Homo sapiens: one gene and its partners. The protein of the gene in region 2 purifies or fractionates together with the protein of the main gene of each other region. This does not show direct contact. Each region holds a gene or a part of one and is shown on either strand. Other genes may lie near its edges. The genes, in order: CCDC186, TSNAXIP1 and PIBF1.

What was found.
Region 1: the proteins of TSNAXIP1 (region 2) and CCDC186 purify together in Homo sapiens (affinity purification with mass spectrometry; 2 studies listed by BioGRID and IntAct, with this or other methods). This does not show direct contact.
Region 3: the proteins of TSNAXIP1 (region 2) and PIBF1 purify together in Homo sapiens (affinity purification with mass spectrometry; 2 studies listed by BioGRID and IntAct, with this or other methods). This does not show direct contact.

The regions. Positions count from the first base shown.
Region 1 is NC_000010.11:114,155,339-114,166,457, forward strand, and holds part of CCDC186 (coiled-coil domain-containing protein 186), read right to left. Parts: intron 7,992-11,119; 5' UTR 7,931-7,991; coding exon 7,299-7,930; coding exon of another isoform or gene 7,295-7,298; exon of another isoform or gene 6,270-7,294; intron 2,343-6,269; coding exon 2,216-2,342; intron 1-2,215.
Region 2 is NC_000016.10:67,819,770-67,828,568, forward strand, and holds the end of TSNAXIP1 (translin-associated factor X-interacting protein 1), read left to right. Parts: intron 1-1,069; coding exon 1,070-1,182; intron 1,183-1,329; coding exon 1,330-1,456; intron 1,457-3,856; coding exon 3,857-3,950; intron 3,951-4,813; coding exon 4,814-5,010; intron 5,011-5,367; coding exon 5,368-5,503; intron 5,504-5,897; coding exon 5,898-6,067; exon of another isoform or gene 6,068-6,126; coding exon of another isoform or gene 6,127-6,147; coding exon 6,148-6,307; coding exon of another isoform or gene 6,308-6,382; coding exon 6,383-6,513; intron 6,514-6,667; coding exon 6,668-6,793; intron 6,794-6,922; coding exon 6,923-7,075; intron 7,076-7,193; coding exon 7,194-7,303; intron 7,304-7,479; coding exon 7,480-7,606; intron 7,607-7,703; coding exon 7,704-7,810; intron 7,811-7,983; coding exon 7,984-8,224; 3' UTR 8,225-8,299; downstream 8,300-8,799. Other genes in the region: CENPT (centromere protein T), read right to left, coding at 8,498-8,621, 8,705-8,799. UniProt on the Homo sapiens protein: Possible role in spermatogenesis.
Region 3 is NC_000013.11:72,776,151-72,787,166, forward strand, and holds the start of PIBF1 (progesterone-induced-blocking factor 1), read left to right. Parts: upstream 1-5,982; 5' UTR 5,983-6,199; intron 6,200-7,272; 5' UTR 7,273-7,319; coding exon 7,320-7,571; intron 7,572-11,016. Other genes in the region: DIS3 (exosome complex exonuclease RRP44), read right to left, coding at 1,270-1,343, 2,037-2,230, 4,696-4,853, 5,455-5,682.

The DNA of each region.
Region 1 (11,119 bases), on a different chromosome or scaffold from region 2:
AGCCACATGTGGAATTTAAACTTTCTAGTAGTCACACTTTAAAAAGTAAAAAGAAGCTGGGCGCAGTGGCTCACGCCTGTAATCCCAGCACTTTGAGAGGCCAAGATGGGCAGATCACCTGAGGTCAGGAGTTCAAGACTGGCCTGGCTAACATGGTGAAACCCTGTCTCTACCAAAAATATAAAAACTAGCCAGGCTTGGTGGCGGGCCCCTGTAATCCCAGCTTCTCAGGAGGCTGAGGCAGAAGAATCGCTTGAACCTGGGAGGTAGTGGTTGCTATGAGCCGAGATCGCGCCATTGCACCCCAGCCTGGGCAACAAGAGCGAAACCCCATCTCAAAGATAAAATAAAATAAAATAAAATAAAAAATAAAAATTACAAACAAGTGAGTTTATTAAACCCAATATATCCAAATATTATCATTCCAATATTATCAATCCACATGAAAAAAATGAGCTGTTTTATTTTTATACTAACTCTTCTAAGTTACATGTGTATTTTACACTTACAGCACCTCTCAATTTAGACTAGCTACCTTTGAAGTGCTCAATAGCTATATGCAGCTGGTGGATGCCACATTAGATAGTGCAGATCTAGAAATAAAATAAAGAAGGAAAAGCTTTTCTCTTTAAAAACAACAACAACAACAAAAAAAGCCCACTAATAAGCTCATGAAAGGAAGGGCTCTGGTTCCATTGTACCTGTTCGGTCTGAAGTTTCTGGTCATTGAGTGACCTGACTACCGAAATATGGATTTAGCCTGTTAAGACTCCCTCACACTTTACCATTCTAACTCTGGTTTATATGTGGGGACCCTAGAGCACATAAAAATCAGGATTAAATACATACAATTTTACAAATACAGTCACCTTCCAATCATGCATCAAGTGAAAAATTGTTTTACCAATTGTTTACTGTTATTTTCATTATATAACTTTCTTTGAAAGATGAGACAAAATACTTTTAAGGCTAGAATGCTTCTAATCCTGTTCACAGAAGAAAAAGCACCTCAAAAATAAAGAGCAACTCAGCTTTCCTATTAGTCTGAATACTCACTTTGTTGATTCATGCATCAGAGGAGTTCATTTAAAAACTAGAAAGAGGCCAGGGGCAGTGGTTCATGCCTGTAATCCCAGAACTGGGAGGCCAGGCCAAGGCAAGTGGATCACCTGAGGTCAGGAGTTCAAGACCAGCCTAGCCAACACGGTGAAACCCTGTCTCTAATAAAAATACAAAAATTGGCTGGGTGTGGTTGGTGGCCGCCTATAATCCCAGGTACTCCCGAGGCTGAGGCAGAAGAATCACTTGAACCCAGGAGGCAAAGATTGCAGTGAGCTGAGATTGTGCCACTGAATTCCACCCTGGGTGACAAGAGCAAAACTCTGTCTCAAAGAAAAAACAAAAAATAAATTAAAAAAAAGAAGGAAAAGGACAGGCTAGGAAAGCCAGTAAGCCAGATACAATCTAAAGTATGACAGCCAGCCTTCACAATATAGTTTTTAAAAATACTGAGAATGGAACCATACCAAAATATAAACTTAAAAACATCCTAATGCCAGACATAAACTTTTATATTTCCATTGCTTCCTCCCTGTTGGCAACAACAGTCTAGTTGACTGTCAACTCAAATCGTCTTTTTGCTTATTTTGAACATAACAGAGTATGTTCTACTACATGCAGTACAGGAGTCACATGCATAAGAATAAACTTACATAAAAGGAAATACATCAGGCTATGAGTCCTACTTTGTAAAGGAGAATGGTTTAAATGCCATGCAATTCTCTGCATTTAAAATATGATTTACCTTATAGAACTCCAACCTACATGCAAGTTTTCAGAATTTTTTTTTTTTTTTTTTTTTTTGAGACAAGGTCTCACTCTCTCACCCAGGCTGGAGTACAGTGGCACGATCTCAGCTCACTGCTGCCTCAATCTCCCCGGCTCCAGTGATCCACCCACCTCAGCCTCCTTAGTAGCTGAGATTACAGGCGCATGCTACCATATGCAGCTAATTTTCTATTTTTTTTTTTTTTTGTAGAGACAGGGTTTCACCATGTTGCCCAGGCTGGTCTCAAACTCCTGGGCTCAAGTAATCCGCCCACCTTGGCCTCCCAAAGTGCTACGATTACAGGCATGAGCTGCCACAATCGGCTGCCAGGAATGTATTTATTTTATTAATTGAAGTATAGTCTTCGAAGATTTTTGTCTTTTTTACCTGTTTAATTGTGTTCATATGCTGCTTCTCAGTTTCTGTTCTTTTCTTTAGTTCTTCTCTTAAATTGTCTTTTTCTGAACAAATGTCTACGAAGAGCTCCTGATGCTTCTTATTTTCTTTAATTAACCTAAATATAAAAAGGGCAGTGTATGTAAAACATAATTTAAAATGGAGATAAAATAATATGTGGAATATAATTTCTTTACAGATCAGGGTACAGATATCTATAATTATTCATTATGTTAATAAATTAACATTCCTAAATAATCATTTTATAGTGAAACATAATACTTTGCAAAAGATTCTCTGGCCCATTAGGCTATTAACTTTTCCCTAGAAATATGAATATTTCAAATCAAAATAGAATCATATGAATGAAAAGCACACCCTTCCAGATTTATACCTTCAGGTATCTCAATTATGCACCAATCCTGTCAGCACTGGCACTCTTCAAATAAGTGGTTCTCAGCCACGGGCAATTTTGCCCTTCCAGGCATTTGTCTGAAGACATTTTTGGTTGTCCTAACAAGGGTAGGGGCTGCTACTGGCATCTAGTGGATGGAGGCCAGGGATGCTGCTAAACATCCTACAATGCACAAGACAACTCCAACAACAACAAAGAATCTGGCCCCAAGTGGCGATACTGCTAAAGTTGAAAAGTCTTGCTTCAGATTTTAAAAATATTTTAATGATAGTCTAATAGTTATAATGTACAGTCAATGTAAAACAGCAAAATAAAATCTAAGCAGAAATATCATCTTGAATTCCCCTAGAAAAACAGAAATAAAGTCTCAAAAACTGCCTGCAAAGTGCTTAGAAATGTAAGATGCCTAAGAAAGCTAACAGCAAGTACTCTAGGACTAATTAGCAATAGCTGTAACCTAACATTTATTGCACACTTGCTATTGGCTAAATTTAGCTTTTTTAATTTAAAAAAGTGTATTATTTCATTTAGTATTCAAAATAAGTCTATGAAATTATTATCATTACCATCACTTCTGTTTTACGAATTAAAAAAAAAAAAAACTAGTTAGGCATGATGGCTCATGCCAGGAGTCCCAGGAAAAGCACTTGATCCCAGGAGTTCCAGGCTGCAGTGAGCTCCACTGCACTCCTGCCTGGGCAACAGAATAAGACCTTTGTCTCTAAAAATAAAATAAAAATATTAACAGCAAAACAAAACTGAAGCCTAAGACTTGTTCCAGGTCACACAGCTAGTAAGCAGTTGAACTTTCAATTTTGTTTTGGATCCAGGTATACTTCCAAAGCCCCAGGCCTTTCCACCTTCTACTTTGAAGATCACTCATTAACTCAACCAGTACTTACTCAGCATCTATTTTATGTGGGAAATATGTCAGCAAATAGTCCCTGCCCTCGTGGAACTTACATTCTAGGGGATAAAATAAAAATGGACCCTAGATATATAATAAAATGTCAGCTGGTGATTAAATCCTATTAAGAAAAATAAAGGAGAGCGAAAAGCCAGAGAGTGACTTGAGCTGCTATTTTAGATAAGTAGTCTAGATAGGCCTCTCTGAGAAGGTGACAGCTGAGCCTAGGAATCAGTGAGGAAACAATCATACAAATGTTTGGAAAAAAGGCAAATATATGCATGTTTATTCAAGCCTTTTATGACACAGTGGTTTAACTTAGATCATTTATGTGAGGCATACTCAATTGCTACAGAAAACTACTTGAGACACAAGAGTCCTGCCTATAGTTCACAAGTGAACAACAAAGGGAGGGGGAAGTGAAAAGCAGTAAACACTCAATTTGTTACTTATGTGCCAAATGCATATTCTATATACAGACAACTGTTCTTAATTAAGAATTTTGGTCCCAGCACTTTGGGAGGTGGAGGCGGGTGGATCATGAGGTCAAGAGACCGAGACCACCCTGGCAAACATGGTGAAACCCCGTCTCTACTAAAAATACAAAAATTAGCTGGGTGTGGTAGGGCGTGCCTGTAGTCCCAGCTACTCAGGAGGCTGAGGCAGGAAAATCGCTTGAACCTGGGAAGCGGAGGTGGCAGTGAGCCAAGATCCGCCACTGCACTCTAGCTCAGTGACAGAGCGAGACTCCGTCTCAAAAAAAAAAAAAAAAAAAAAAAAGAATTTTAGGCTAGGCACAGTGGTGCATGCCTGTAATCCTGGCACTTTGGGAGGCCAGTGTGGGTGGATAGCCTGAGTTCTGGAGTTCCAGACTAGCCTGGGCAACATCGTGAAACCCCATCTCTAAAACAAAAAAACCACAAAAGTATTAGCTGAGCCTAGTGGTGCGCACCTGTTGTCCAAGCTACTTGGGATGCTGAGGTGGGAGGACAACTTGAGCACAGGAGGTTGACGCTGCAGTGAGCTGAGATCACACCCACTACACTCCAGCTTGGGCAAGAGAGCAAGACCCTATCTCAAAAAAATAAAATAAAGAATTTTTGGGCCAGGCGCAGTGGCTCACGCCTGTAATCCCAGAACTTTGGGAGGCTGAGGCAGGTAGATCACTTGAGGTCAGGAGTTCAAGACCAGCCTGGCCAACATGGCAAAACCCTGTCTCTACTAAAAATACAAAAATTAGCCGGGTGTAGTGGTAGGCACCTGTAGTCCCAGCTACTTGGGAGCCTGAAGTAGGAGAATTGCTTGAATCCAGGAGGCAGAGGTTGCAGTGAGCTGAGGTCGCGCCACTGCACTCCAGCCTGTGTGACACAGCACAACTCCACCTCAAAAAAAAAAAAAAAATTTGGTTGGAACCTTAGACAGTAATATTGATGTGTTCAAAAATCAAAGAACAGAAATAAAGAGAAGAATGGTGCTTGCCAGGGCACAGGGGGTGAGGGAAAAGGGGAGATATTGGCCAAAGCCTACAGACTTTTCAGTTATAAAATGAGTAAGTTCTGGGGATCTAATATACTCCATGGTGATAACAGTTAATAATATCATATTGTACACTTGAAATTTGTTTAGACAGTAGATCTTAAATGTTCTCACCACACACACACAAAGGTAACTGTGATGTGACCGATGTGGTAACTAACTTGATTGTGGTAATCATTTCACGATGTATATCAAATCATCACATTGTACCTCTTTAAATATATACAATTTTATCAGTTATATTTCAATAAAGCTGGGGGAAAAATGAGGGAATGTATAAACAAAGATTTGGAAATAGATGCATTCATTAAAATTTCAAAGAAAGTAAAAGGAAGTTTTCTTCATAGAAAATTAGATGAAGAAAAAAGTTAAGAAAAAAATTTAGTTGTTTTAGAGTTAACCTGACTCACAAAGTATTTTATTTGGAATTAAAAACATCATGTGTATAACCAAAAATTAACCTTGATTTAAAATAACATCTGACATTTGTGTAATGTCCTAATGTCCACAAACAGTTCCATCAGGTAAGTATTGTCACTCTAAGGTGAAAAATCTTTCACTCAAAGAGGTTGACTTGGCCAAGACAACAGAGCTGGCAAATGCCAATGGGTATCTTCCAAATACCAGACATCAGAATTATGATTATTCCACTCACCCGTGCTGTCACTGTTCTGACAGGATGAAGCAAAAAAGAGAAACCAATTTTCTACCCTATTCCTCATATTTTTAGGTAAATTTAACACCTTGTAACTGGTTCATTTCTAATAACCGTATTTGAAAAAGCTCTAAAGCTCCACTCACAAAGCTCAGATTTTAACTTTGCATTTGTTAGCATGTGGCCTTGAGCAAGTTACTTTTTCTCTCTCTGCGCTTCAGGTAACTCATCTGTACAATGGGGATAACAGCACATGTCACAGAGAGTTCTTGTGAAGAATCCATGAACTAATAAATGTAATATACCAGGCACCTAATTATCAGCATATACATGTTTACTGCTATTATTATTAAATGTATAACATCTTATAATTTATAAGGGAGGTATGAAAATGGTAAGAGTCTAGATCTCAGTAAAGTGGGAAGAGGCATCAGAGATAATCTCAAGAGGAAGGTCTAAAAGAATAGGTACAGGCTACAGGAAAATGAGAAAGTTACCCTATAAAATGCAAGAATAGCAGCAGCACTGATGGTTCAAGTACAAAAGCATACAGTTTATTCACATAATATAGTATTACAGTAAGGATATGAATAGCAACAGCAGGCATTTGTTTGGGGGTAATATCAAGAAGGGCCTTGGAGTCTTGAAGAGATACTTGCAAACCCAAGTTCACAGTAGCATTATTAACAACAGCCAAAAAGCAGAAGGAACCCAGATGTCCATTAATGGATGAATAAACAAAATGTGGTATATACATACAATGCAATATTATTGAGCCTTAAAAAGAAATGAAATTCTGACATGTTACAACATGGATAAATGAGGACATTAGGCTAAATGAAATAAGCCAGTCATGAAATGAAAAGTATATGATTTCACCTACATGAGGTATCATGAGTAGTCAAACTCAGCAACAGAAAGTAGAATGGTGGTTGCCAGGGACTGAGGGCAAGTGGAAATAGTGTTGTTTAACGAATACAGTGTTTCAGATTTGCAAAGTGAAAAAGTTCTGCAGATTGGTTGTCCAACAGTGTGAATATATAATAACACTACTGAAACGTACACATAAAAATGGTTAAGATGGTAAATTTTAAACTATCATGAAAACAGAACTTCACATATCCAAAACTGTATTATTATTTACTGAACGATAATCAATTATTCTGTTCTCTAAATTTTAATGTTTTAAACCAATGAATTTAGAATGCAGATTTTAAGAAAAAGTTGTGGAATTTTATGACTTGTTATTTCCTTTTGAGTTTCTCTTAGTTTTGACAATATACTTCTACATTCTTTCAAAAGTGAAAAATTTTGAGTTGTCTATAAAAATTTCTAGCACGTTAATACATTTACACTATTTAACATATTGAACTCAGATATCTGAAAAACTCGACATTTGCTCACACATTCAGCAACTATACATTTATTGTTCAACTACTATGTGCATGATTCTAATGTGCAAGTAAAAATGAACAAAATGGTATTTTCCTTTAAAGAATTTTATCTCGAATCCCTGTGCCTGTGAGGGAAAAAAAATAACCTAAAGGTATAAAAAACTTACTTTTTTATGATATGTTCCTGCTGCAAATATTTATCTTGCACACACTTTTCAAACAGAACTAATGCATGTTCTCCCTTATTCATTCCATTTGGTACTCGATGTTCTGCAAACTCCGTAGATAAGAGCTCAGATTCTATTTCTTCCAACAAATCCTCTGATGCTGAAACGCTCTTTATTTTTGAAATAAATTTCTTGGTGCAGTCTGTATCATAGGGGCTTTCTGAATAAGTCTTTTCATTAGCTGATTCTGGAAATGTAGATGACCTTAATTCCACCAATATTTGTGTTACTTTCTGTTCTGTTTCATTTGTTTTTGAAATATGTTTAGCAAAATTTCCACTAGGAAAATTAGCTATTTGTTCAGAATTTTCTGAGCCTGTGTCTGTTTTGGCACAAGAATCCTCACCTCCACCATGATCTGGAATATAATTTTCCTGGGCTTCAATTCGATTATTATGCTCATTAGGTTGACATAAAGTTTTATCAGTGTTTAATGACAATAGTTTGGACTCATTTTCTAATTTGCTGCTTTCATTGCCAGAAAACAAGTTGCATGAGTCTTCCTTTAATTCAGGTGTTTTCCCAACATTTTTATCAGAGGAAGTAGAGGCTATGTGGTCTGTCTCTGACATGCTGACTGGCACCAATTCACTTTGTAATTCTTCAAATCTGCTCCTGATCTTCGTTTTACATCTAAGAAATTGAAACATCAAAATTAAAAACCACTTTAAACCAAAACCCCATACAAACTTGCACACACTCTGTGATGTGGAATAACTAACACCACAAATTTTATCACTAACAATTCCTTTAAAAGCCTGTCCTTGAGAAAAAAGAAAAAGGACTAGGACAGCTAACCCAAGCTGGCTAGCTACAAGCAGTAGGGCCACTGCAAAGTCTGTCTTTCCTCCTTCATTTCAGTCAAACAACTTCATTAATTAATTTCAGTTGTAGTCTGGCATTCTCCAATCATCCCCATAAGATGTTAGGTAAGGAGTAACGCTAGCAACTAGACGAGTGCCAAAGAATGCTTAGAATTCCTTCAGCTCTGTAAAGAAAAAAAGACTACCTCATAAATCTGTAAGAAAATACTGGAGAAATAATACACCAATAAAAGCACTAGAAATCACAAACCAAGATAACAAAACAACGCACATTAAAGAAAATAAAAATTTACTAAGAAGGAAACCTAAATAACAAGACACAACTATCTATAGCCCAGAGATCTAGATTTGAGCCATAATGAAGTCAGGGTGTAAAGAATCCCTGGTAGAAATTAGTTTTTCATCCAGGCAGGAATCCAGGAAGTACCATGGTGATTTTCAAACATTCTCATCAGGAAAAAAACAATGTCCAGTACAAATAAAATGGAGCCCATATGCACTGCCTAGGTCAATAAAAGCAACTTTATTAATTTGACCAAGTTAGAGTGTGTGTGTGTGTGTGTGTGTGTGTGTGTGTGTGTGTATATATATATATTTTTTTTTTTTTTTTTTTTTTTGGGATAGAGTCTCACTGTCGTTGCCCGGGCTGGAGTGCAATGGTGAGATCTCGGCTCACTGCTACCTCTGCCTCCCAGGTTCCAGCAATTCTCCTGCCTCAGCCTCCCGAGTAGCTGAGACTACAGGTGCCCATCACTACACCTGGCTAATTTTTTGTATTTTTAGGAAGAGATAGGGTTTCACCAGGTTGGCCAGGCTGGTCTCAAACTCCTGACCTCAGGTGATCCACCTGCCTTGGCCTCCCAAAGTGCTGGAATTACAGGGGTGAGCCACCGCACCCGGCATAGGATAGATTTTTATATTGTTTATGGAGGTTACTATTCTAGCCATTTTATGACAATTAGTCATCTTCAAATATTATCCCACAACACATAATTATAAAATATTTCCACAATCTTGATAAAAAAAATTGTTGACTTCTTTTGTCAGGTATCAACAAAGCATGTACAAGGTAATGAGTTACTGAAACCATGTGAGGTTAGATTAAAAAGAGGACAGATCATAGTTTTGACAGAAATAACAGAGCAATAATTCCAGATAAGAGATATACTAATGGAAAATAGCTCTAGTTTATACATGAGATATAAACTAATGGAAAACTAATGGAGAGATATACTAAATTTTTAAATAACAAAACATGCATGGTTACATCAGGCTGGGATAAAGGTGGTTATCAGAGGATGATGAAAAGAGAGAGAGAAGACTGGTCAGGTAGATTCCATAGAAGGCTAAGCAGGAGTGAATTTTGTTAAGAACAAATCATAGTAAATCACAGTGACTTGTAGACTTAATTACAGTGCAGAGTTTCTAGCACATAGTGGGTTCTCAAATATTTGTTTAATTAAAGCCTGTAAGCACAGAAATGGTAACACTAGTATTTGAGAAACATTATTCTAGGAATGTCGAAAATGGGAGGAATAAGTGTAAGAAAGGAAAAGTAGACCAGCTTGTTTGCTAAATATGCTAATTTCTAGACTGCCCTCTGGGGCATCAACTAAGACAGCCATTGGCCTAAATACTCTACCTCTCTGTATAAATATGTTTCCAAACAACCAAATTATCATTATTTTGCTGCAGATATTTTATAACCAAGCCAAAGCACACACTAGTATTAAAGGCTTGGTTTAGACAATACAAATAAACGGAGTAAATAAAAGACCTCGTAAGTACTCTGTATTCCAAAATCTAGGACAAAATAAAATAATTCTCAAACAGAGGCACTGCCACCTACATTACCTCACCCAAAGTAACTCACTTTAAGATATAACTTGTGGGCTGGGCGTGGTGGCTCACGCCTGTAATCCCAGTACTTTGGGAGGCCAAGGAGGGCAGATCACAAGGTCAGGAGTTCAAGACCAACCTGGCCAAGACGACGAAACCCTGTCTCTACTAAAAATACAAAATTAGCTGGGCGTGGTGGCAGCCGCCTGAAATCCCAGCTACTCGGGGAGCTGAGGCAGAGAACTGCTTGAACCCGGAAGGCAGAGGTTGCAGTGAGCCAAGATTGCGCCACTGCACTCCAGCCTGGGCGACGGAGCGAGACTCTGTCTCAAAAAAAAATTAGCCGGGCATTATGGTGGGTGCCTGTAATCCCAGCTACTCGGGAGGCTGAGACAGGAGAATCGCTTGAACCCAGGAGGCGGAGGTTGTAGTGGGCCAAGATCGTGCCATTGCACTCCAGCCTGGGCAACAGAGCGAGACACTTTGTCTCAAAAAAAAAAAAAGTAAGGAGAGGGAGCACATCTTTGAGTCAAATTATACCTCTTCATGCCAAGCAGCTGGGAACAGCTTCAACTTTTCTTCAGAGAAAACAATGAGTTTGTGACTTCATTTTTTTTTTAATGGCTAGAACCTGTCTTAATTTCTGGAATAAGTTTTTTGTAGTAACCAAAAGTGGCGGCAAAGTTACATCGGACCAAGGGATTCTTAAAGGACTGCACTGCAGAGGAAAGTACAGAGGTTAGGAGTGTTTTACACTGTATGACTGGAGACCCAGTAAGGAAAAAATAAAACCATTTCACGTTTATACCCAGATTTAAGATTCCTCAGTAAACCAGTTGTACTACTTTTCCATTCTTATCTCTCAACACATTCCTGAAATCCTGGCACTCCATCATACTTTACTAGCCCAACCAGTCTAACTCAAAGATTCCCCCAACTTGCGTATTAACATTTCAATGGCTTTGTTCTCAACTAGAATGTTCTTCCCTTAGGTCTATCTGAAGTCTATGTTTAAAGGACCAATTCTAATGTCACATCTTCCTCCAAATTTTCTCTCATCACAAGTACAAAAATAGTCTCTCAGGGTAAATTTAAAAA
Region 2 (8,799 bases):
CCTGAGTAGCTGGGACTATAAGCACATGCCACCACACCTGGCTAAATTTTTTTTTTTTTTTTTTTTTTGAGACTGAGTCTCGCTCTGTCGCCAGGCTGGAGTGCAGTGGCGCAATCTTGGCTCACTGCAAACTCCGCCTCCTGGGTTCATGCCATTCTCCTGCCTCAGCCTCCAGAGTAGCTGGGACTACAGGTGTCCGACACCACGCCCGGCTAATTTTTTGTATTTTTAGTAGAGACGGGGTTTCACTGTGTTAACCAGGATGGTCTCGATCTCCTGACCTCGTGATCCATCCGCCTTGGCCTTGCAAAGTGCTGGGATTACAGGCGTGAGCCACCATGCCCGGCCTAATTTTTTTTTGTATTTTTAGTAGAGACGGGGTTTCACCGTGTTAGCCAGGATAGTCTCGATCTCCTGACCTCGTGATCCACCCACCTCAGCCTCCGAAAGTGCTGGGAATTACAGGCGTGAGCCACCGCGCCCGACTATGCTTTCTCACTGCATCCTCACATCAATACACTGTGACAAAGACTACCATCATCCCTATTTTACAGACGTGAGAACTAAGGCTCAGAGAAGTTGTGACATAGCTAATAAGGGACATTTGAGACTTAACCCGAGTCTTCTCTAACTCAAGAACCCACAGTCTTAATTATGAACCATGTTGAGAGATGTTTGTAAAACACATCAGGGCTGGCCAGGCACAGTGGTTCACGCCTGTAATCCCAGCACTTTGGGAGGCCAAAGTGGGTGGATCACGAGGTTAAGAGTTCAAGACCAGCCTGGCCAAGATGGTGAAACCACGTCTCTACTAAAAATACAAAAATTAGATGGGTGTGGTGGTGGGTGCTTGTAATCTCAACTATTCGGGAGGCTGAGGCAGAGAACAGCTTGAACCTGGGAGGCGAAGGTTGCAGTGAGCCAAGATCGTGCCACCACACTCCAGCCTGGGCAACAGAGCAAGACTGTCTCAAAAAAAAAAAGTCAGGACTGGGGGAGGAGAGATGGAGAGAAACATTAGGAAGGGGAGCAATGTTGCCATGGCAACCCCACCTGTACCTCCCTGCAGACTGGTCAGTTCTCCATGGGTGGGCACCTGTCCCCATGGCCCACATACACCAGTGGCCAGACCATTTTGCAAAATCGAAAACCCTGTTCAGATGACTACCGGAAGCGAGTAGGGTAAGCCAGGGTCAGTCCCATGGTGGGTGAGCTGGCATGGGCCAGGCTTTGGGCCAGGAGACAGGGCAGGGGCGTGTGTTGCCCCAGACTGAGGGCACAAGGGCCCCGTGGGGGTGCTGGCCACATATCAGCCACTGTCCCCTGCAGGAGCTGCCAGCAGCACCCCTTTCGCACTGCCAAGCCCCAGTACTTGGAGGAACTGGAAAACTACCTACGCAAGGAGCTCCTCCTGCTGGACCTGGGCACAGATTCCACCCAGGAACTAAGGCTGCAGGTCAGAGCCACAGAAGAAACTTGGGGAGGGCGGGGGAAGGGTGGGAAGAAGCTTCACCTACCGGCCGGGCACAGTGGCTCACGCCTGTAATCTCAGCACTTTGGGAGGCCAAGGCGGGTGGACCACCTGAGGTCAGGAGTTCAAGACCAGCCTGGCCAACATGGCGAAACCCCGTCTCTACTAAAAGTACAAAAATTAGCCAGGCATGGTAGTGGGCACCTGTAGTCCCAGCTACTCAGGAGGCTGAGGCAGGAGAATCGCTTGAACCCTGAACCCGGGAGGCAGCGGTTGCAGTGAGACAAGATCACACCACTGCACTCCAACCTGGGCGACAAGAGTGAGACTCCGTCTCAAAAACAAAAAAAAGCCTCACCTACAAGGACTGAGCACCTCAGACCTTCAGGGGAGACCCACCTCTCCCAGCTCTCCTGGGTCTCCTTCCCTGAACAGAAGCATGAAACATCCCATGAAAATGCCAGTGAGGCCGGGCACAGTGGCTCATGCCTGTAATCCCAGCACTTCGGGAGGCTGAGGCAGGAGGATCGCTTGAGGTCAGGAGTTCAAGACCAGCCTGGTCAACATGGTGAAACCCTGCCTCTACTAAAAATACAAAACCTGCAGTGGTGGTACACACCTGTAGTCCCAGCTACTCAGGAGGCTGAGGCAGGAGAATTGCTTGAACCCAGGCGGCAGAGGTTGCAGTGAGCCGAGATCATGCCACTGCACTACAGCCTGGGCAACAGAGTGAGACTCTGTCAACAGAAAAAAGAAGGCCAGGCACGGTGGCTCACACCTGTAATCCCAGCAGTTTGGGAGGCCGAGGCAGGCGGATCACCAGGTCAGGAGATCGAGACCATCCTGGCTAACATGGTGAAACCCCGTCTCTACTAAAAATACAAAAAAATTAGCCAGGTGTGGTGGCAGGCACCTGTAGTCCCAGCTGCTCGGGAGGCTGAGGCAGGAGAATGGCATGAACCTGGGAGGCGGAGCTTGCAGTGAGCCAAGTTCACGCCACTGCACTCCAGCCTGGGCAACAGAGTGAGACTCCATCTCAAAAAAAAAAAAAAAAAAAGAAAACGCCAGTGAGCAGGCAAGGCTGCAATGTGGATCCAAAAGTCTCCTGAGGCTGGAGTTTCCTCACCTGAGTCAGGTGGCCTGGATGCTGTGCCCAGTCCCTGCAGCTCTGTGATCCCCAGTACCCAGGTTGGGCCACTGGACATCAGTGAACGTAGCCTGAATGCTGGCAGTTGGGCAAGCAGGGGTCACACCGTGTTTACCAGTCCAGTGGCAACAACCCCAAGCTTAAGGAACCAGCACAGATGCATAAGGAGGGAGGGAGGAAGAGAGAGAGAGAGAGAGAGAGAGATCAGATCCAACCCAGATACCAGTGTATAGTAGGGAGAGAATCACCAAATCTGCTTAAACAAGGATGATGACAGAGAATCCCTGCCTTTTGACTTAGTCATTGACTAAAGCATTTACTGAGCACTGGCTATGTGCAAGTGCAAGGCCCTGGGCTGGGGCCTTACATCGATCTCCTGAACAGATAAGGAAGAAAGCATACCACTATGGCGTAGTGGGGCTGGGCTTCAAACTCAGGGCTGACTCTGGAGACTGTGCTCATTTCAGTGAGCAATGCTGCCTCCAGAAACCTCCCATGTGTCCAAATGGGACAGAAGACCACACCCCTACTTGCATGTCAGGATGCAAGGGTACAACCTTCAATCTCCTGAATCTACCAGGCTCTAAGATGGGGAGAGGTTACAAGTGAGAGGCCAATGATGCAGTGTCTAGAAGGCAAGAGGCTGGCTGCCTGGAGAGCCAGAGAGGGGCTCAGGCACAGAGTGGATGTCTGTCTATGGTCATGGCAGTCCACTAGGCCTCAGAGACAGCATCAGGACAGGCCTCCAGAGAGCTGCCCCCCAGGCTCCGTGGCACTGTGAGGTACCCGGGTGGTATCTAGGGCATTTACTTGAATATAAGTGACCTGGCAGCCTCATGCTGGAATACTGCTAAGCCCAGTAAAGAAAAAAACAGTGCCAGGCACAGTGGCTCACACCTGTAATCCCAGCACTCTGGGAGGCCGAGGTGGGTGGATCACGAGGTCAGGAGATCGAGACCATCCAGGCCAACATGGTGAAACCTCATCTCTACTAAAAATACAAAAATTAGCCAGGTGTGGTGGCGCGTGCCTGTAATCCCAGCTACTCAGGAGGCTGAGGCAGGAGAATCACTTGAACCTGGGAGGCAGAGGTTGCAGTGAGCTGAGATTGCACCACAGCACTCCAGCCTGGGTGATGGAGCGACACTCCGTCTCAGGAAAAAAGAAAAAGAAAAACAGTTCCCCACTAAGGTTGGCAGCTGTGGGCTAGGAGATGATGGGTTCCCTTTTCTTGCCAGCCTTACAGAGAGATCTTTGAGTTCTTCATAGAGGACTTCAAAACGTACAAGCCATTACTATCCTCCATCAAGAATGCGTATGAGGGGATGCTGGGTAAGAATGCACCTCCTGCCAGGCGTAGTGGCTCACGCCTGTAATCCCAGCACTTTAGGAGGCCGAGGCGGTAGATCACTTGAGGTCAGGAGTTTGAGACCAGCCTGGCCAACATGGTGAAACCCTGTCTCTAGTAAAAACACAAAAAAATTAGCTGCGCATGGTGGCACACACCTGTAATCCCAGCTACTTGGGAGACTGAGGCAGGAGAATTGCTTGAACCTAGGAGGTGGAGGTTGCAGTGAGTTGAGATCACACCACCGCACTCCAGCCTGGGCAAAAGAACAAGACTCCATCGCAAAAAAAAAAAAAAAAAAAGAATGCAGCTCCCCTCCTTGTCCCAGCCTGGAAGGGGTGGAGAAGATCCTATTCGACCTTCTGGTGCTCCACAGCAGGGCTGGGGCAGCTACCAACTGGGCCTTGAGGTCACCAAGGCCCCTCAGCCATTCTGCACAGACTGTTCCATGATAGGGCACCCCAGAGCACCTGACAACACCTGTCATTGAGAAGCACAGGGGGGCAGTCCCTGTTGAAAATGGAGTGAACCCCAGGAGAGAGTCAGCACCTCTGGGAGTCAGCAGGCTCCCCTGCCAGGCTCAGGAGGTGCAGGGCATGGTGCAGCTGCAGGACTTAAGGCTGTAGGGGAAAGGACATAGGAGAGACCCCGGTCTTCATCTGAACTCTGCCCTTTGTTTAAAATCAAGTGCAGGAAGGCCTGAAACAGGGACCATGGCTTTGAACAAGGCATGCAGAGATTCTTGGGGTTTGCAAGCGACATAGCCACTCACCCATGACCTTAGGGTGTCTTCTGGCTGTTTGTTCTCCATGGCCCCAAAGCAGCTCTCCCACCTGTCTCTGCTTAGCCCACCAAAGGGAGAAGATTCGGGCTCTGGAGCCCCTGAAGGCCAAGCTTGTCACTGTGAATGAGGACTGCAATGAGAGGATCCTGGCCATGAGAGCTGAGGAGAAATATGAAATCTCCCTGCTCAAGAAAGAGAAGATGAACTTGCTAAAACTCATCGACAAAAAGAATGAGGAGAAGATTTCATTGCAGAGCGAGGTGAATGGAAGTGGTGTGATGATGACCAAGTCCCCGAATTCCTGCCAACTCCACGACAAGGGTGACCCCCTACCCTGCTCTGCCTTTCTACGGAGAGTGACACACTGAGCCACCACCTTCCCCCAGAGCCTTGCTAACTCCACCCTCTGCCCTGCTGCTAGGCTCAGTACTTTCCCCACAGGGGGAAACATTGGCACCTTGCCGAATTCTCAGAAATGGCCAATCTCCTTCTTCTTTCACCTTTCCTGTTCACAGTCCCTGATGGGGCCCCCCAGAACCCAGCCCACTCCCTGGGGTGACCAGCTGCATACAGGGGTCCAGGGGCAGCCCCTGACCACACAGCCACCTTCTTGCCAGGTGACCAAACTGAGGAAGAACTTGGCTGAGGAGTACCTGCACTACCTCAGTGAGCGAGATGCCTGTAAGATCCTCATCGCAGACCTGAATGAGCTGCGGTACCAGCGGGAGGACATGTCATTAGCCCAGTCGCCAGGTAAGCCTGAATTGGGAATCGGGTTTCTCTCTTCTCTGAGACGCTGGAAGACTCTGGTCTCACCCCTAAGCCCCATTCATTCAGCATTCCTAAGACCTGCTCATTCCATAACCATTCAGAGGGGAGATGTCCCTGCCTCCCGCAGGGCTGTGTATCTTCTGAGTTGAACTGAGAATTGTAGGAACACAGTTGGTAGCTGAGGCAGCCTAGGCTCCCAGTGGGCTGGACAGGCCTGGTACTCAGTTTCCTGGGCTTCTAGACTTTAGCCTGAAACCCTAGGCTGGTAGTGCTGTGGGCAAGAACCAGGGAACCCCAAACAGGAAGGGCAGAGGGCTTCAGGCAACCCCTGAGAAAGCCACGGTGACACGGGCTGGTGGGCCCCTTCCCCTGGCAGGCATCTGGGGGGAGGACCCTGTGAAGTTAACCCTGGCTCTTAAGATGACCCGGCAAGACCTGACCCGCACGCAGATGGAACTCAACAACATGAAGGCCAACTTTGGAGATGTGGTCCCCAGGAGGGACTTTGAAATGCAGGAGAAGACCAACAAGGATCTTCAGGAGCAGGTGCTGGCAGGCAGGCAGGGCCAGGAGGGTAGGACGGGGTCTCACAGGTGGGGGGCCAGGGCCAATGTCCTTGCCCACAGCTGGACACCCTGAGAGCCAGCTACGAGGAGGTTCGCAAGGAGCATGAGATCCTCATGCAGCTGCACATGAGCACGCTGAAGGAACGGGACCAATTCTTCTCTGAGCTGCAGGAGATCCAGCGCACTTCCACGCCGCGGCCTGACTGGACCAAGTGCAAAGGTGAGGGCAGCCGGCAGGGCCCCAGGTCCTGCTTACATGTGGGCCCAGACTCCAGCTCCCTCTCCCCACATGCAGATGTGGTGGCTGGGGGCCCAGAGCGCTGGCAGATGCTGGCTGAGGGCAAGAACAGCGACCAGCTGGTGGACGTGCTCCTGGAAGAGATTGGTTCGGGGCTGCTGCGGGAGAAAGACTTCTTCCCTGGTCTGGTAGGGGAGGCCCCAGGAGTGGGGCTTGGGCCAGAGTCAGAACAGCCATGCCCTGCTGCTCAGACAAGCTTTTGGGGAACCAACTGGGGATCTTCCCTGATTGGGGGTGGGGCCACAGATGGGTCCAGAGATGAGCTGATATCCTCCCTCCTAGGGCTATGGGGAAGCCATCCCTGCTTTTCTTCGGTTTGATGGCCTCGTGGAGAACAAGAAGCCAAGCAAGAAGGACGTGGTCAACCTCCTCAAGGATGCCTGGAAGGAACGTCTTGCTGAGGAGCAGGTCAGATCTCACCAGCCACTCTGGCCCAGCATGGTCTTCAGATCCAGAGTCCTCTGCAGGTCCAGAGGTGACAGGGATGAGGGCCAACCAACCGTAAGACTCTGACTGAGCATTTCCTCGATCCCGCAGAAAGAGACGTTCCCAGATTTCTTCTTCAATTTCCTGGAGCATCGCTTTGGGCCCAGTGATGCCATGGCCTGGGCTTATACTATTTTTGAAAATATCAAGATCTTCCACTCCAACGAGGTTATGAGTCAGTTCTATGCAGTCTTGATGGGAAAGGTGAGCTGGGGCCTATTCCCCTTGGGGAGACTGAGAGGGGTCTTTGTCCCTAGCATAGACCAGCTTTGCCCCCACCACTCCCAGGAACAGCAGGTGAATAATGCTTCTCTCCTTATAGCGGAGTGAGAATGTGTATGTCACCCAGAAGGAGACAGTAGCCCAGCTGCTGAAGGAGATGACAAATGCTGACAGTCAGAACGAGGGGCTACTAACCATGGAGCAGTTCAAGTGAGAGGCCAGTCCAGGCTACCCCCAACTCCTACCCAACTATTCCTGCATCTGTAGGGAAAAGGGGCACCTGGTGGGAAGGGCCACAGCCTCGGCACTCACTCCCTTTTGAGCACTAGGGAGAGGCACAAGCAGGCCTCAGCAGGTCCCTGTTGGCCCTCATGTCTCCCCTACAGCACTGTCCTCAAGAGTACCTTCCCTCTCAAGACAGAAGAGCAAATCCAGGAGCTGATGGAGGCAGGGGGCTGGCATCCCAGCAGCAGCAATGCAGACTTGCTCAACTACCGCTCACTGTTTATGGAGGTGGGTGTGTGGGGTCCGGGGACTGGCCTGGCCCCTGCCCTAGCCTTGGCTGGACCCTACCCAATGTGCCCTCCCCCTGACTTGTGGCCCCTCCCAGGATGAGGAGGGCCAGAGTGAGCCCTTTGTGCAAAAACTCTGGGAACAATACATGGATGAGAAGGACGAGTACTTACAGCAGCTAAAGCAGGAGCTTGGCATAGAACTGTGAGTGACCCTCATCCATAGGCGAGTCCCACAGGCTGGGCCCCTGAAGCCCCTGGGTCTCCCTGTGCACCATGCACCATCCACTGCTCAGCCCAGCACAGAGGAGGGCACCTGGGAGTCTGGGGCACGGAGAGGAGGGGTCAGGGCCTGTCACTCTCTTTCCTGTGGGGCAGCCATGAGGAAGTGACTCTGCCCAAGCTGCGAGGGGGCCTGATGACCATCGACCCCAGCCTGGACAAGCAGACAGTGAACACCTACATGAGCCAGGCCTTCCAGCTCCCTGAGTCGGAAATGCCAGAGGAGGGTGACGAGAAGGAAGAAGCCGTGGTGGAAATCCTCCAGACTGCCCTGGAGCGGCTTCAGGTGATTGACATCAGGCGTGTGGGACCTCGAGAGCCAGAGCCTGCAAGCTAGGAACTTGTGGGCAGCCTGCGTACTCCAGTCCTGCTAACCCCTAGCTTTTAATATAAAAGTGTTTGTCTGAATCCATGCCATTCTCCAGACTGTGCTGGGGAGTTGTGGGGGGGAATCAGTCCCTGCCTGGCTGGCCCCAGGACATGCACCAAAATGCAGAATATTCTGTTTATGACACTTTATTGATGCTGGGGGGGTGGGGAGGAGACCTGGAGAAATATGTGGGGGCAAGAGTCCCCAGGTGGGGACAGGGAAAGTGTTGAAGCCTGGCCACTACTGGGCAGGGAAGACAGAGTTGCCACTGTATGCACAGGGGATGAGCAGCTGCCGGTACTCCAGGGGCAGGTGCCGCTCCACTAGCACGTGCAGTGAGACTTGGTCAGTGACCAGGCCCTGCCTGCAGTGGAGGAAGAGAAGGGACAGGCAGAATCAGCACCAAAACTCCCCCAGCCAGCACCCCCACACCTTCCGCCTTCTCACCGCCGCATCAGCAGCTCCAGGTCCTCTGGCTTCACAGTCTTGCGGCCAGCATGAGCAGCAAATACCTCCAGATCATCACAAAGATGCTGGAAATA
Region 3 (11,016 bases), on a different chromosome or scaffold from region 2:
AACTATTATTAATATCAGAGAATTTTTGAAATCTACATTATGATATACACAACTCTGAATAGGAGAGAAGATAGCAGTGTTTCTTATAGGCCAGTGCTAACAAAAACAGCTTTCTATGATGAAGGAAGTATTCATTTTGCGATCTCTAATATGGTAGCCACTAGACACAAGTTTCTCTTGGGCACTTGAAAGACAGATAGTACCACCAAGAAACTGAATTTTTAATACATATTAAATTTAAATAGTCATATATAACTAAGTGGCTACATATTAGGGCAATACTAAATCTGTATTTCAAAAATCAAACCCAACTTTTATCTTCTCATTTCCTTTTGGTTTCATAAAGTATCATAAAGGTAAGAAGGGATGACAGAAGTGTAAAGACTGGATTTATGTATAATGTCCTATCACTTAAAACCTATTTCTATAACAAGGGCTACCATTTATATTTACCATACCTATGTGCCAGGCACTAGGATGAAAATTGTATTAATGCTACAGTTATCATCTTATTTGATCCTTATAACAACACTATGAAGTTATTATTGCTAAACATTATATATTTATATATAAGAAAATGAATGCTCAGAATTTAATTATTCCCTTAGCACTCCTTCTCACATCAGCTATTGTAATGACTCCTTTACTCACCTCTCTGCCTCTAATCTTTCCTGGATAAAATGCTTAATGTTACACACTGACATGAGAGTGGTCTTACAAACAAATACCATTTCCAATCATTCTCTCCTGCTCCACCAATCCACATTCATATACCATTACTTTTTCTTAGCCTGACATATAAGGAAGGGATCTCAGAATCCTTTCCTCTTCATAGCAGCCCTTCAGGGAGATCTTTATAAATCAATTGAAAAATTACTAACCTACAGAATAAGTTCTAGGTCTTTACTATCTGGACACTCCCCTCCCTCTTCTTTCCTCTGTCTGCAGTGCCTGCCACTTCATTTGTCAGCAGCTACTCTTTATTCACAAATCAGCCATGGACTCCGTTCATTTTTTCCTCAACCAAACAGTGCTACCAGGTACCAGGCCCTACTCAGGTTAATGGGAATATATCTATTTTAGAAAGTTAACTCCTTTAGGAATGGCATTTCAATAAGCCTATGACATCCACTCCTGTTTATAACACAACTATTCCAAATCCAGCTTACCCACCGACATTCCAATTTTTAAATTTGGTAACTATATGCCTAATATTCCAAAGTGGCTATTTTAATATTTTTACTTTTCAAAAACAAAACAAAAACATACCCCTTCTTCAGACAAACAAGCAAGACGATCTATGAGTTCGGGGTTAGCAGTTAGGCTCTTTACATATTCTTCACCTGAAAAAATAAGTTTATGTTGTTTTTGATAAGTGTTTTTTCCTTAGATATGAAAAAAATGGATAGTCTTGTTTGCGACAGTATACACGTCATTCTTTCATTCATTGAGACACACTGAGAGTCTCACTCTGTCTCTCAGGCTGGAGTGCAGCGGCGCAATTACACATCACTACAGCCTAGAATCCCTGGGCTCAAGCTACCTTCCTGCCTTAGCCTCCCGAGTAGCTGGGACTATAGTTACATACTACCATGCACGGCTTTTTTTTTTTTTCCTGTAGAGCTATAGTCTCCCTATGTTGCCCAGGCTGGTCCTGAACTCCTGGTCTCAAGCAAGCCTCTTGCCCTGACCTCCCAAAGTGCTGGGATTACAGCACCTGGCCTCAATTTATTTAAAAAACAAAACCCAAAAATCTGTTGATGTGATCATACCTAAGCAGAAGCAGGGGTTCCAGTATATTTATGAGATTTCATTGCTAAACCAGTTGCAAATAGTGAGGGGAAAATTAACAGCCACTGGGCACAACATATTTAGGTTAAAAACTATGTGAAATTTAAAAATACAAAAATATCACATGAAGTTATATAGGACTACGAAAATACTAAATAGTAAAGTGAACATCTGACTATAGGCCTAATGATTATTTTTACACGCATTTGCAAACATGCACTAAGTACTTCTACATTTAGACTTACAAGTGAAAGCTGGTATTCCTTCTTCTATGGCTTTCTCTTTGTTTCTCCTGTCATTTGTTATGAAGATAACTTGCAGCTGGTTGTCTGCTGACATTTTTTTCAAATGTTCATTGTACCATTTTGCTGCTACTCGAATCGCTCTATCATTCCTGTCATTAGCATTTTCTCCCTGTTCTTGTTCTACATAGGTTTCTCTAAATGGAAAGAAAAAACGAAATAAAAGGAAATCAGTAGAAACAAGGATATGTGAAAACTCTTAGCACATAAATGCTTAACCACTAAACTAGAAAAAGTCAATGGTATATCTTTTCTCTTGAATGTATTCAGATGTACACCTCAGAGAAGAAATCAAGATTCTTATAATTAAGTTTTTAAGAAACAATTTGCTTGGAAAAGAAGAAAATTATGTTATTAAGGGGACAAGAAAAAGGCTAATACAATTTTATTTCCTAAAAAGAAAAATTCAAGATCAGAATTTATACTTTAGGTTGAGACACTAAATAATAGTTTGTTGACAAATTATAATACAATTTCACAGGTATGATAATCAGATTTCATTCAAACTGTAGGTTAATAGCAATTCCTAAAAGCTACAAATAGTATAATTAGATCATTTATAATCAGAATTCTACAGTCATTAATAAATAATGCATATAAATTATCCATGGTAAACACTAATAGCTGAAGCTATGTAGAGACTGAAAAGTCAGGTATATTAATAGATATTACGTATTTCTTCTATCTAAACTCCCAAGTATGTCAACACATTCATCTATTTCTTTAAATCTGTTCATCAAAGCCAGGTTTAAGTACAACAGCAAAGTTCACTACAATAGCTTCCAGTACTTAATGGTAATAGATTCAATTTAATAATTTGATTTATATTAATAGTTTTAGAATTATTTTATTCCTCATCGTTGAATGCACTTGCTAATGCTTTTTTTTTTTTTTTGAAACAGAGTCTTGCTCTGTAGCTCAGGCTGGAGTGCAGTGGCATGATCTCAGCTTACTGCAACCTCTACCTCCGGGTTCAAGTGATCCTCCCAACTCAGCCTCGCAAGTAGCTGGGACTAGAGGCATGTACCACCATAACCAGCTAATTTTTGTATTTTTAAGAGACAGGGATTTTCCAGGTTGGCTAAGCTGGTCTGGAACTCCTGGCCTCAAGTGATCTGCCCACCTCAACCTCCCAAAGTGCCAGGATTACAGACATAAGCCACCACGCCCAGCTGCTAATGTTTTAAGCTCATCAGTGAAAGACACAGTCATAAATTTTTGAATTGGTTTTAAACTTGGGTCTTTCTGCACTGAAAAACAAGTGATGTTGCTATTTCTGGATTTCAAGGAGGTACTAACAATAAGAAGCCTACAAGGGCTTTACTGGTATTCTTTACAAGAACATTGAAGTTTGAGATATAAGAATCAAGAAAGTTGAGATATTAAGGTTTTTAAAAATGTGCATAATCTGATGGAATTTCATTACCAGAAGTCTACACTCTAATCCAATGGTTCTCAATTGAGTGAATTCACCCCTCAGGGCATTTTGTATCATTACAACTGAGTGGTGGTGGTGGTGGTGGTGGTGGGGGGGGTAAGGGGTGGTGATCCTGCCAAATAGGCTAGGAACACTGTTAAACATACTACAATGTATAAAACAGCCTTTCCACCACAAAAAAATTATTCAGTTCAAAATATCTATAATGCCAAGATTGAGAAGCCCTGATCTAATCCAATAAAAGTACCATACTCATCATAGATTATTTATGTAATATAACGTAATAGGCAATATCATATTTTTGAGACCACACACTGAGTTCAAAGGTCTTGAATCTAAAAGCACAACAAAGAATTATATTCCTGGCCAGGCACGGTAGCTCATGCCTGTAATCCCACCACTTTGAGAGGCTGAGGCAGGTGGATCACGAGGTCAGGAATTCGAGACCAGCCTGACCAACATGGTGAAACCCTGTCTCTACTAAAAATACAAAAATTAGCCTGGCATAGTGGTGCGTGACTGTAATCCCAGCTACTCAGGAGGCTGAGGCAGAAGAATCGCTTGAACTTGGGAGGTGGAGGTTGCAGTGAGCAGAGATCACACCACTGCACTCCAGCCTGGGTGACAGAGTGAGACTCCATCTCAAAAAAAAAAAAAAAAAAAAAAAAAGAATTCTATTCCTTAACCTAATCTTGCTCAATGTAATCAGCTGCAAAGTATTAAACTTTTAAAAAGACCATTAAGAATAAATCTACTTTCTATTTTTAAACAAAATAGAAACTTCACAAACTCATATATTTTATTACCCTCTGTTAGTTGTTCACATAATATGGTATTCCAGGAACTTAAGCAAATCTCATCTTCCAAGATTCTATGGTCCAACTCATGCTAAAACCAATTCAAAATGAAAACATTTTGGAAATTAAAGTACCTATTGTAGTCTAGGAGTCAGCAGACCTTGGTTTTAGGCTTGAGCCCATCAATGCCTGTGTGACCTTAGAGAGATCCACTTAGCATTATCTTCTGCACAGCCATGTAAGAATTAAATAAGGTATGAAATCTATCACTTATCTTCTGACAATGTCATAAATTACTCACAGGAACCCTCTCCCGAATTTTGCTAATCCTGTGGTTTTCTGATATTTAACGTAATATTCCTCCTACCTATGGTGCTCATTAGTGAAAGTATAGAAATGCTTCTCTTGGTTATTAGTCACATCTCGGATGCGTTTATATACGGGGGCACTGCGATTTCTCACTTCTTGAAGAACTGTTTGTAGCACAATTACATTCCTGATGGCAGGGTCCTCAAGAACATCAATCTTAAAGAAAGATAAAGTTAATTTTTCCTATATTCATTTGTAAATAGCTCTGTCAAACATAAAATCCTGTTTTATGTTGGGCATAAATACTTTATGTTTTAAAAACACTGAATAAGTTAAGCCAAGAAGCTATTTGGCTATAGAAAACGAGACAATAGTCACTAAACCCTTCAGATCTATTAAAAAAAGCACACTTAAACAGACCAATCACAAGACTTCGTAGAATTAAGGGTATTAATAAAGGAATACGTTGGCCCACATAGTTTTTTGTTCCTAGGCACTTACAAGCTGCCTGGGAGTCGCAGGCTGGAGGCCACAGAAGCCCAGGTCCCCGGCCTCCAGGCACTTACAATCTAAGGCAGAAGAGACACCAGGAGTTAGAAAAATAACGTGTCTGAACTACGACTCCAAGAACTAAATTTTTTAAAGCACAAGGAAAAGAACCTCGGCCTGGGGAACAGGAAGCTTCGGTCCCGAGGGGGTTTCCCTTTCGCTAGGTATGTGACACTGCCAAAGACCCGCCTCCCTGGGCCTCAGTTTCCCTGTCATACCCCCTTGTCCCCGTGGGGCCGCGCTGTCCGCGGTTCGCCCGCCCACGCACCTGGTGCAGTAACACATTAGTGTCGGGCAGCAAGTAGTGCGGTTGCGGGCAGACGCTGCTCGCCGGGTCCTGGGGCTGCGGCTCCAGGGCCGGCCCCTCGTGCGCCCCTCCACACGCTGCGCACCCGGGCGCACCGCAGCCGATGTCGTCTCGCAGGTAGTGCTCGCGCACGATCTTCATCACGCCGCCCGCCCGGGTCTTTTTTAAGAACGTCTTGGACTTGAGCATCTTGCCTCGCCGCGCAGAATCCTAACCCCAGCAGCGCTCTTCCAGCAAAAGGCGTCAATCTAGAATACGCCTAACCCCGGAGGTTCTTCCCTTTCCATTCCCGGATATTAGTAACACTTCTCGCGGGAAAATGCCGAGATAAACATTGGTTGGCTCTCTGACGGCCGCGGGGATTGGGCGAGAGTGGGGAGGGGCGGCAAAGCAAGGCGAGGAGCCATTTCCGCCCGTGGCCTAGGCGGGGCTTCCTTCTGGACGCCACCTCACAACGTGTGTTGCTTTCCGCTCCTCGGAACATCCGGGAGAGTTGACTTCCGGCGGCTTGTGGGAGTGCTGGTTCTGTCCTCCTTGCGGGTGCGGAGATGGTTGTCTTGGTTACGGGTCCTAACGGTCCCCTGCCTTGAAATCCCTTGTTGAGGGCCTGCAACCTTGTGCTTCCGACCGGAGACGCCTTTGGTCCCTCGGTGTCTGCACTGGCTGCTGGTCAAGGCTTCAGTGTGGAGTAATTGACACTTTCGAGGTAACTTGCGACTATCATCGCTTTCTTTCCCGCGTGGGGCAAGGAATCCCCCGAGCTGCCAAGTTTGGGGCTTAATTTTCACGCCGAGTGTATAGGCAGTCCCCGTCTCGGGCCCTTTGTAATCGAGGAGAGAATTTGTCTTTGAATTCACTTTTTCTTACCTATTTCCCTTCAAAAAGAAGGAGGGAGGCCGATCTTAGTATAGTTCTCGCTGTTTCCCCTCCACACACCTTTCCTTATCATTCAGTTTAGAAAAACTGAAATATTTAATAGCATAATTTGTTATATCATGAGGTATTAAAACAAGGTAGTTGCTAACATTCTTATGAGAGAGTTAGAAGTAAGTTCTATTTAGAATTTCTTGAATTTTTCTTATATCCTGTTGTTTTCATTCTGCTATCTATAAAAAATGTTTTTGTCCCCGTTTTCCCTATTTAAAACATCTTCAATGATGCCTCATTGCCTGTAGAATAAAATCCAACCCTATTTTGACATTTAAGGCCTTCCAGTCTTGATCGTTAAGGGCGTGTGTGTGTGTGTGTGTGTGTGTGTGTGTGTTTGTGTTTGTGTTGGGGGGGCGGTGAAAGGAGTAACTATTCCAAGACTTGGCTTTGTTTTTTTACTTCCACTTACGTATCATTAATAACTGCATGATTTCTCCTTTTTACCATGCCTGTCCAAATCTTTAAAGATTCTAAGTGCTACCTCTGTGTAACGTTTCCCTGACCAACTCAGACGTGATTTCTGTTATCTTTGAGCATGTGTTGGTTTTAGTGGTGCCATTCTTGATTATAATGGGCTTTTTTCTTCATCTTGTACATTTCTTTGTTTCCTCCAAGTAAGATTCCTCCCCGCAGGAACTGTTTTTTTAAGTTTCTCGAAGGCTGACTTCATATTAGGAATTAATGTGTTTGATTTGAGCATTAACTTAACTGCAATAATCTGTTCTAGATTTGGGATGCACTAAATTGCCTAATATTTATTTAAGGAATCCTTAGTCTCTCTTTAATACAGTCCATGATTTCTGTAGTTAATTTTATAGTACATTTGAATTAATGTTTTTTAACCTACAGAATATTAAAATCAAATTAGAGAAGAAAACTGATCCATAATAATAAAAATGTCTCGAAAAATTTCAAAGGAGTCAAAAAAAGTGAACATCTCTAGTTCTCTGGAATCTGAAGATATTAGTTTAGAAACAACAGTTCCTACGGATGATATTTCCTCATCAGAAGAGCGAGAGGGCAAAGTCAGAATCACCAGGCAGCTAATTGAACGAAAAGAACTACTTCATAATATTCAGTTACTAAAAATTGAGCTATCCCAGAAAACTATGATGATCGACAATTTGAAAGTGGATTATCTTACAAAGGTAAGATCAGGTTTAAATTTTGTGTTCTATATGCTTTATTGTCTTCAAACGGCAGGTAAATAAGAATTAAATACACACATTATCTGAACTTGAAATGATACATTTATATTTCTTGACAAGTACAGCCTTTAAATAATTTTGGTGTTCATAGAAGTAGAGAATAGAATGGTGGTTACCAAGGGCTGGCATGGTTAGGGGTGAAGGAGGGTTGGGGAGATGTTGGTCAAAGGATACATAATTACAGTTGAATAGGAGGAATACATTCAAGAGATCTATTGGACAGCATGGTGGCTATAGTTAATGACATTGTAATCTTGGAAAACATTGTGTTTTTGAAAAACACAGCAGATGTTAAGTGTTCTCATTACTAAAATAACTATGTGAGGTAAAACATTTTTTAATTAGCTAGAGTTAACCATTTCACAATGTACGTATACTTCAAAACATTATGTTGTACATGACATATACACACAGTTTTATCTGTCAGTTGGGATCACCTGAGGTCAGGAGTTTGAGACCAACCTGGCCAACATTGTGAAACCCCAGCTCTACTTAAAAAAAAAAAAAAAAAAAAATTAGCCAGCCATGATGGTGGGTGCCTGTAATCCCAGCTGCTCGGGAGGCTGAGGCAGGAGAATTGCTTGAACCCAGGAGGCAGAGTTTGCAGTGAGCCACAATCGTGCCACTGCACTCCAGCCTGGGCAACACAGCAAGACTCTCAAAAACTAGTAATAATAATAATAATAATAATTGGAGGCCAAGTGCGGTGGCTCACACCTGTAATTCCAGCACTTTGGATGCTGAGGCCAGTGGATTGCTCCAAGCTCAGGAGTTCGAGACTACCCTGAGCAACATGGTGAGACCACCCTTGCTACTAAAAAAATAAAATAGCCCCGCGTAGTGGTGCTGCGCCTGCAGGCCCAGCTACTTCCGAGGCTGAGGCGGGAGAATCACTTGAATCCGGGGGCAGACATTGCAGTGAGCTGAGATCGTACCACTGCACTCCAGCCTGGGTAACAGAGTGAGACCCTATCTCAAAAAAATAATAATAATAATTTAAGTATTGAAATATGGAGTGATTTAAACGTAGATATGGATAAATTACTTTTGTAGGCTCAATTTAAAAAATCTAACATATGAGGTATTTTGTTGTTTTTTGTTGTTGTTGTTGGAGACAGTCTTGCTCTGTCACCCAGGCTGGAGTTCAGTGGCACAATCTTGGCTCACTGCAACCTCCACCTCTTGGGTTCAAGCAATTCTCCTGCCTCAGTCTCCCACGTAGCTGGGATTACAAGTGCTCCCCACCATGCCCAGCTAGCTCTCTGGGATCACTTTTATAAGGGCACCAATCCCAACAGTGAGGGTTCTACCCTTATAACCTAATCACCCCAAAGGCCCCAACTTCCTGCTACTCACATTGGTGATTAGGTTTCAATATACAAATTTTGAGGGGAGAAAAAAAAATAAGCACACAAGACGTATTAGCCGTTGTTGTTTTCAACTAACATAGCATCCTTATCTGTTTCATCCCTTTCATTTTCTGTGCCTTTTATGGCCATCGGACTGAATTTGTTTGTTATTTGTCTGTGAATAGACTATGAGGTCCATGAGGACGGGGATGTTTTTGTATTCATGGTTGTATTTCCAGCACTTAGAACGGTGCCTGACACAAATTAAGTGCCCAGCTATTTCTTAAATGAATGACTGAACCCCATTTTGCTCTGATTAAACAAAGCCACTAGGTGGTTAATAGCATACCCAAGGCCATTCAGATGAAAGTGATAGAGCCAGATAGGATTCAAACCTAGGAAGTCTAAAGCCTATACTCTACACAAGTGAAGCTCCAAACACTTTCTTTTAGGTACCCTATACAGTCACCTACCTAGTCTAGGTCACTTGGTAGTTTATCCATGCATCCAGTGGTTTCCCATCCCTATTCCCTTACTCTTTTTGCATTTCACATGAACTCCATCTACCTTCACCTCTCCAGACCTTAGTGCAACTCATTGAAGAAACCTGAGGTTATCTCCCATTCATTAATTCACCCACTCAGTCAACAAGTATTTTTTTAAGTGCCACCTGTATACCATATCCAGACTTACATTTTGTTCAGCCACCTCTTGTATTATTTGTTTTCAACTTGCATTGTCCTTGGTTGTCAATGGCTTTGCTTCTTTTTAGGTGTAAGCTTTATATTATAGAAATGTTGGTTGATTCATGACAGGCTCTCTAGTGTAACAAATCCAAATTACAGTTCTAGATGCACACAGTTTGGGTTTTGAATTCCAGCCTTACTAAATTCCTTAATGTTTTTATTCCGTGATTTCCTATAAAATGATAATAGTATTTATTCCGTGGAATTATCGGGAGGATTAATCAATGTATGTAAGCTCATAGATGCTTGGTGTATACTAATAATAAACTTATTATTTACATATTATTTTATTTGTAGCTATACTTACTCAGCACAATATTATTATTTTTCTACTTCCATGGTGCTTAGTGTAGTTTTTGTTGTGGTTTTCTAGTTTGACTGAAAATGTAGAAGATTGCAATAGTCGTGTTCCTGAGTTTGACACATAATCATCATTGATCCCTGAAAGGCTGCTGTTTTTCTAATGTATTTATTCTTTTCATTCCTATAGCTCATTCCATTTCTTAATGCAAACATTTTAATGTTTTGTTTACATGTATTCTTGAGAATGTGTATCTTTTAACTTTACAGAAATGTAAATTATATGCTTTGTTTTAGTTCTCATCTCTTTTTTCCTACTCAGCACTGTTTTTGAAGTTATCTATTACTTTGTATACATCTAGTCCTTTGCTTCCAACTCTTATGTAATTCTTTGTGTGCGTCTACCAGTCTTTCTACTCCTACATTGCTAGGCATCCAGATTGCCTCCAGCTCCTTGCAACACATGCAGCATTAGACATTTCTCTTCTGGACCTCTGTGAGCATGTCTTTGACATATATAAATGTCTCCTTCATTTAACTAAGTGTACTGCCAGGTTATCTCCAAAATAGCTGCCCTGCTGTATATTAGTAGAGTTTTTTTCTCTATCATACGAGCACTCAGGATTCTCTGCTTGAAGACTCTTTAGGAATAAGATGTTTGCTCTCAAATATATGAAGAAATACCTATTGTAGAGTTAGCCTTCCATAATTTATTGAACCTAAAGCACCTCTGTTGTAAGATGCATCATTACATACATTGCTAAGGTTAAACACTTCCAGTTGAATTGTTAAGTGCCTTAGATTGTAAAATGCATTCCAATTTTAGAGATGTTAAAATGTGAGAAAGTGTGAGTCTGGAGTTGATGAAAGAATATTTAAAAAATATTTTTATTAAAGAATATGTATATGTATGTTAATGTGTGTATGTGTGTATATATATGTTTACTTCTTACATGCCCTGGGAATAACACCTTAGACAGGCAAACAGCA